2 linked regions of the Homo sapiens genome follow. The protein of the gene in region 2 interacts with the protein of the main gene of each other region in a pairwise test. Each region holds a gene or a part of one and is shown on either strand. Other genes may lie near its edges. The genes, in order: DCLRE1B and GINS2.

The links.
Region 1: the proteins of GINS2 (region 2) and DCLRE1B interact in a two-hybrid assay, tested with the Homo sapiens proteins (one study listed by BioGRID).

What each region holds. Positions count from the first base shown.
Region 1 is NC_000001.11:113,907,802-113,911,455, forward strand, and holds part of DCLRE1B (5' exonuclease Apollo), read left to right. Parts: intron 1-207; coding exon 208-390; intron 391-3,329; coding exon 3,330-3,654.
Region 2 is NC_000016.10:85,682,455-85,685,954, reverse strand, and holds part of GINS2 (DNA replication complex GINS protein PSF2), read left to right. Parts: intron 1-3,500. UniProt on the Homo sapiens protein: Required for correct functioning of the GINS complex, a complex that plays an essential role in the initiation of DNA replication, and progression of DNA replication forks.

The sequences.
Region 1 (3,654 bases), on a different chromosome or scaffold from region 2:
TTGTGAAGAGTAATTGAAAAATAGGAGTAGGATGGAGACATTACAACAAAGAAACCATGCAGCTATACTGCCTAGTTCAGTGCCAGGCTACATAATAGTTTTTTCACAGACTAGTAAGCAAACGCCTGTCTATTGTTGGAGGTAGGAGAGGCTTGTCTTCTATTCTTTTGTCTCTGACCTTCTGCCCCCATGTACATATTCCTCCAGGTGATTTTCGATACACACCATCCATGCTAAAGGAGCCAGCCCTGACACTGGGGAAACAGATCCATACTTTATACCTAGACAACACCAATTGCAATCCAGCCCTGGTTCTTCCTTCCCGACAAGAAGCTGCCCACCAGATTGTCCAGCTCATTCGAAAACACCCACAACATAACATAAAGATTGGTGAGTTGTTTCCTTTCAGTTTCCTGTCACCTGTAGATAGTGAACTAGATTCTTTAAGGATTCTCACATCTTTCAGATCTTTGTGCAGTTCTCACTTTCTCCTACACTGACCACCTTATTTAAAATTGCAACCTGGCTAGGTGTGGTGGTTCATGCCTATAATCCCAGCACTTTGGGAGGCCAAGATGGGAGGGTCATTTGAGCCCAGGCGTTTGAGACCAGCTTGGGCAACATGGCAAGACCCTGTCTCTACAAAAAATTTAAAAATCAGTTGGGCACGATGGTGCGTGCCTGTGGTCCCAGCTACACAGGGGACTGAGACAGGAGGATTGCCTGGGTCCAGTAGGAGGTCAAGGTTGCAGTGAGCCATGTAAGTGCCATTGCACTCCAGCCTGGATGACAGAGCAAGACCCTGTCTCAATAAATGAATGAATGAATGAAATAAGTAAAACTGCAACCTGCCCACCATCCCCATTCCCAACTCCTGATCATCCATACCAATTCATTTTTTTCATTTTTTTATAGCACTCATATACTATATATATTTTTAAATATGCTATTGCTTACTTGTTGTCTATCATGCACTTCCTCTGGCCCATGCACATACGCGTGCACACACACACACACACAAGCATAAACTCCTTAAGAGCATCACTGGAAATGGGAAGAGACTTTGTGTGTTTGTGGAACAGAGAAGCAGCAGTCAGTATGACAGGCACACAGTGGGCAAGGAGGCTGAAAAGGCAAGAGGGGCTGAAGTGCTGTTAAGCCATTTTGGACTTGATCCTAAACCCAACCAAGAGCTATTGAAGGATTTTAAGTAGAAGAGGGACAATATGCACTCATCACCTTGCAATATATTCTATAATTTATGTATTTATTGGACTTTTTATTGTCTGATTCCCCCTGCTAGAATGTGAATTCCACTATGGCAGTCTCTGTTTTATTATGGGTGTATCACAAATGCCTACACTAATGCCTGACACAGAAGCATTCAATATGAATGAATGAAATTTATCAGAACATAGATATTTAAGTGAGCGTTGTGCTTTAAATTAAGTATACTGAAAAAACAGGTTTGTGCTTGTTGTACTGATTATAAATAGTATAAAACATTGTTGAGGACTCTTTCTTGGAGTTGCCATTTGGAATAGTTTATGAAAATACATTTTTGTTTTATAAAATAAATAAATGTAATAGATTTGGTTCTAAATTACTTTTTTGGTTGTTTCCAAATTTGTGAGTCTACAAAAGGACAAAGACTTGCCACCATTATAAATATTTGAAAAGGACATGTCTCAACTCTGAAAGGAGTTTCAAAATGAGACTAAACAAAGGCATTGAAAAAATTATATAACTTCCAGGGTGACTACCAAATCGATTGAGAAATATCCTCTACTCTCAGGATTGCTTAGCTACTTATAAAGACCTAACCATTCTTAATATTTTAATGCAGAATTTTCTCAAAAAAGCAAAGCTGGCTAGGAGGATGCTATAGTAAGCCTTAATTAATTTTGCAAATATGTAATAAGCCTCTACCCACTAAGTACCAAGTATCCAATAGGCAGTGGGGATATAAAGATGAATAAAATATAGTCTCTGACTTGGAGGGCTCACAGTCTGGTAGGGAAGGACCTGTGGGGAGGTGGAAGTGGGAATATATATAGAGAGAAGAAAAATCCGCTCCATTTGTGCCCAAGGAGTGAGATTTTGAACCATAATCAGGAATAAAGTGGATATAAATAATATATACTTCTTTTTATGGCGTTCACAATCTGGTTGTGGATTTGAAACTTCTTCAGAAAAAGTCTGAGAACAGCTATTAAACAACATCTCCCATATCTGTTACCATAACCATTTCCCAAATTAATGTCTCCATTTCTTTCTCTGTAAGTACTATTTGGGCCCTTCAATTGAAACTTCCACTCCAGCTTCTTCTCATCCTGGCAGTCAAATAATATTATTACCATATTTTTCTTTTTAAAGCCCTGCTCTGAGCATATTATTCTTATGATTAGAATTAGCCATTTTCCTGCTTCACACTCAGTGGCTCCCCTTCACTTACACAATGAAGTCCAAGCTTCTTAGCGGTACATATAAGACGCTCTATTATATGGCCCTTGCTTGCCTCTCTGGTATCATTTCTTATCAATTCCTTTTTTACTTTAGTAACAGCAAACTGACCCCTCTTAAAATGTTTTCCACTATACCCTTTCTACCCTTTCCTTGCCAGGTTAACCTTGCCCATCCTTTAAGATTTAGCCTAACGTTCCCTAACTCCATCACCTGTTAGATACAATACTGTATACTTTTTTTGTTTTTTTTTAAGAGACAGGGTCTCACTCTGTTGCCCAGGCTGGAGGGTAGTGGCATGATCACAGCTCACTGCAGCCTGGACCTCCCGGACTCAAGTGATCCTCCCGCGTCAGCTTCCTGTGTACCAGGAACTATAGGCGTGCACCAACATGCTTATTTGTTTATTTTTGTAGAGACAGGGTCTTGCCAGGTTGCCCAGGTTGGTCTTGAACTCCTGGGCTCAAGCAATCCTCCTGCCTCAGCCTCCTAAAATTGTAGGCTTACAGGTGTGAGCCACAGTGCCCGGCCTGTACACATATCTTTAACGTTGCTCTTAATTGTGGTTTTTCTGGGTCTCCTTGTAGATAGTACTTCTTGAGGACTGACAGTTTTCTTTATTAGTTTTCATGGTGCCTGAAACTTGCTAGATGCTCTCTTTTGTTGAACTAAATGAATGAGTGGATTCTGTGTCATTCCCTTTCATATGTCTTAGCTCAAATGCCACCTCTTCCTTGATATTCTCCCTGGATTTCTCCATGAATTGTATCTATTTTTGTTAAACATTTTGTTGATTTATTAGGATTTTCCAATAGCTTAATTTTCTTCCTTCTCTTACTTTCCCCAATACATTGAACATTATTTAGGACTCTACAGCCTGGGAAAGGAATCACTGCTGGAGCAGCTGGCCCTGGAGTTTCAGACCTGGGTGGTATTGAGTCCTCGGCGCCTGGAGTTGGTACAGCTACTGGGCCTGGCAGATGTGTTCACAGTGGAGGAGAAGGCTGGCCGCATCCATGCAGTAGACCATATGGAGATCTGCCATTCCAACATGCTGCGTTGGAACCAGACCCACCCTACGATTGCTATCCTTCCCACAAGCCGAAAAATCCACAGCTCCCACCCTGATATCCACGTCATCCCTTACTCTGACCATTCCTCTTACTCCGAGCTTCGTGCCTTTGTCGCAGC
Region 2 (3,500 bases):
TGAAAAGACCCTGAGTGATTTTTTTTTTTTCTTTTTATGGAGATGGGGTCTCAGCCGTGAGTGATTTTGACTGCCCCCTCCTTACTGGGACTTATTGGGGGTACCTACCTCCTAGAAGCAAGAGCTCATTGAGCCAGCCACTCTGGGGTCCGTTTAAGACAGACTGCTTAGTGTCTTCCCCTTGCTCCCTGTCCTAAAGTGGCAAGTGACTCAGGTAGTCCTGAAACATAATGGGAAACCCCAGTTCCTCTGCTTTGAGACGGTTTTTTTTTTTTTTTTTTTTTGAGAAAGGGTCTTGCTCTGTCACCCAGGCTGGGCTATAGTGATGCAATCATAGCTCACTGCAGCCTTGACTTCCCAGCCTCAAGTCATCCTCCTGCTTCAGCTTCCGGAGTAGCTGAGACTACAGGTGTGCACCATCATGCCTGACTAATTTTTTGATTTTTTTTTTTTAGTGGAGATGGGGGTCTTGCTATGTTGCCCAGGCTGGTGTCAAACTTCTGGGCTCCAGTGATCCTCTCAGAGTGCTGGGATTACAGATGTGAGCTGTTGCCCCTGGCCGGAAGGCTTTTGTAGAGGAGAGGCTCACCAGGCCTGGCTCCATTAATGCAGCATCCTCTCCAGGCCCCTTGTTTAAAATCAGTGTCTGGCACTTTTGTCCCATCTAGACCCCAGGTGATAACATGGCAAGGGCCTGTTTTATCGCAGGCTAGAGTCAGAAGGTGTGGAGAGTTCCCCTTGAACTTTTTACCTGGGCTGGAGCCATATTGTGGGAACAGTGAGGCACCATTAACCTGTCTATAGACCCTACCCAACAGCCTGCTGCCTCCTGACTTCTGCACCACAGATAAGTTCTGCCTGTTCTGGGCCAGGCGCGGTGGCTCATGCCTGTAATCCCAGCACTTTGGGAGGCCGAGATGGGTGGATCACCTGAGGTCAGGAGTTCAAGACCAGCCTGGCCAACATGGTGAAACCCTGTCTCTACTAAAAAATACAAAAATTAGCTGGGTGTTTGGTGGGCGCCTGTAATCCCAGCTACTTGGGAGGCTGAGGCAGGGAGAATTGCTTGAATCCAGGAGGTGGAAGTTGCAGTGAGCTGAGATCGCGCCACTGTACTCCAGCCTGGGAGATACAGCGAGACTCCATCTCAGGAAAACAAATCCAGTTCTGCCTGTTCTGGGACTTCATGTAAATGGAATAATCTAGTATGTCATTTTTTGTTTCTGATTTCTCTTATCCAACACTGTTTTTGAGATTTACCTGTTTACGTTCTCAACACCGGGACACAGAGCTCAGCTCCCAACCCCTTTCTCCACTACTGAAACTCATATTCACACCACCTGGCTATGTTCTTTCATTGCTGGGTACTCTCCATACTACATATTTGTTCACCGATTCTTCTGTTGGTAGATATTTGGGATTCCCCTTTTTGGCTTTAACAAAAAATTTAGAGACAGGGATTTCTCTGTTGCCCAGGCTGAATTGCAGTGGTTATTCAAAGGTGTGATCATAGTGAATTGCAGCCTCCAACTCCTGGGCTCGAGTGATCCTCCCATCTCAGCCTCCCTAGTAGCTGGGACTACAGGTGTGCATCAATGTGCCCAGCTCATTTTTGGCTTTTGAGACAGTCTCTCGCTCTGATGTCCAGGCTGGAGTGCAGTGGCGTGATCATGGCTCACTGCAACCTCCACCTCCTGGGCTCAAGCGATCCTCCCACTTCTGCTTCTTGAGTAACTGGGAATACAGGTGTATACCATCACATTCAGCTAATTTTTATAGAGACAGGGTTTCACTTTGTTGCTCAGACTGGTTTTGAACTCCGGGGCTTCCACCTCGGTCTCCCAAAGTGCTGGGATTACAAGTGTGAGCCACTGTGCCTGGCTCATTTTTGGCTATTCTTAATAAGGCTTTTGTGAATATTCTTGTCCACGTCTTTTCATGGATATGTTTCTTTTTCCCTTGGGTAAATAAATACCTAGAATGATGGACTTGCTGGATCTCAGGGATAATGCTTAACTTTGTAAGAAACGGCCACCTGGTCCTTCAAAGCAGCTGAGCCTTTATCCTACAAGAAATATGAGTTCCCATTGTTCCATGTCCTGGCCAAAAATTTTGACTGTAGCTTTTTTATTTGCTAGAAAGTTGGACCAGAGGTGTTTCATAAGCTGATTCAGATGTTAATGAAAGGATCACTCTGCTGTGTAGAGAAGGTTGGTGCAATAGGAGCAGGGAATGAATCCAGGCAAGCACTGAGAGTGGCCTCTGGCTGATGGAGGTGGGAGATGTGGTAGGTGTCTAGGTGTGTTTTGAAGGAAGCAGCAGCAGGATTGGCTGAAGGACTGGCCATGGGGTGTGAGGGAGAAGAGTGAAAGCTGACAGCCAGGCTCTTGGCTGGAGGCCCAGGAGAGGGAGTTGCTGTCTCCTGAGGTGGGAGGCTGCAGGAGCAGGCTGTGGGCTGCAGTGGGTATCAGGAGTTGGGGGTTTGAACTGTTGTGCTTTCTGGATATCCAGGAGGAAGTTACAGCAGCAATGAGGTTATTGAGTTAGGAGTTAGAGCTCAGGGGCTGATGGGGGTATAAATTTGGAGGTCTTTCTGAGCATGTGGGTAGCATTTGGACGAGGTGGTGTGGATATGAGTTTAGGTAGTGAAGAAAGGGGTTGGGAGCTGAGCTCTTTGTCCCAGTGTCGAGAGGTCAGGAGGAATTGCCAGGAGACAAAAAGGGGAGCCTAGTGAGTTCATAAGCAAGCTCAGAGGGGTGTTCACGGAGGGCCTTCTTTTTAAGGCTATATCTATTAGTGTGTTTGGGAGGATCAAGCAAGGAGGGGACAGTGATCATTTAAGAGCATGAGAGCTGCTGGAGTGCCTTACTGTGCAGGTGAGAGGAGGGTCCAGGACACCTGGAAGGCTGGTCCTCGAGTGGGTAGGAGCTACACAGGGAGTTTGGGGGATGGGGTGGTGTGTGGGTCACACTCAGCTGGGTGTCAGGTGAGAGGTGGGTGGTGGGTTGAGGCGGTGCTGGCGGCAGTGAAGAGAGGGTGAGTAGACCAAGGAATTGGGCCAGGATTGCAGGACGGCACCAAGGGCCCTGGGGATGGGTAGTTGGCCGTTTACAATGGGACCCTGCAGCGTAGCTGTGCTCCGTGCTTGTCCCTTAGCTATAGTACACAGTCTGCTCCCAGGACAGGTTTCTCTGTAGAGGGGGAGGGCTGAGGGAGCTGGAGCATGTGTGAGAACAGTGCTGATGCTGGTGGAATTGGATACAGCTGTTTGATTCTAGACGCTGGGCTTTCACCCCTCTAGGATGTCATGCCTCCTCCCGGCTGGGGTGGCTTAGCCCTCTAGGATATTGTATCGTGCCCAGGCTGGGGTGGCTTAACCCCTAGGATATTGTATCGCGCCCAGGCCAGGGTGGCTTAACCCCCCTAGGATATTGTATCACGCCCAGGCTGGGGTGGCTTAGCCCCTAGGATATTGTATCACGCCCAGGCTGGGGTGGCTT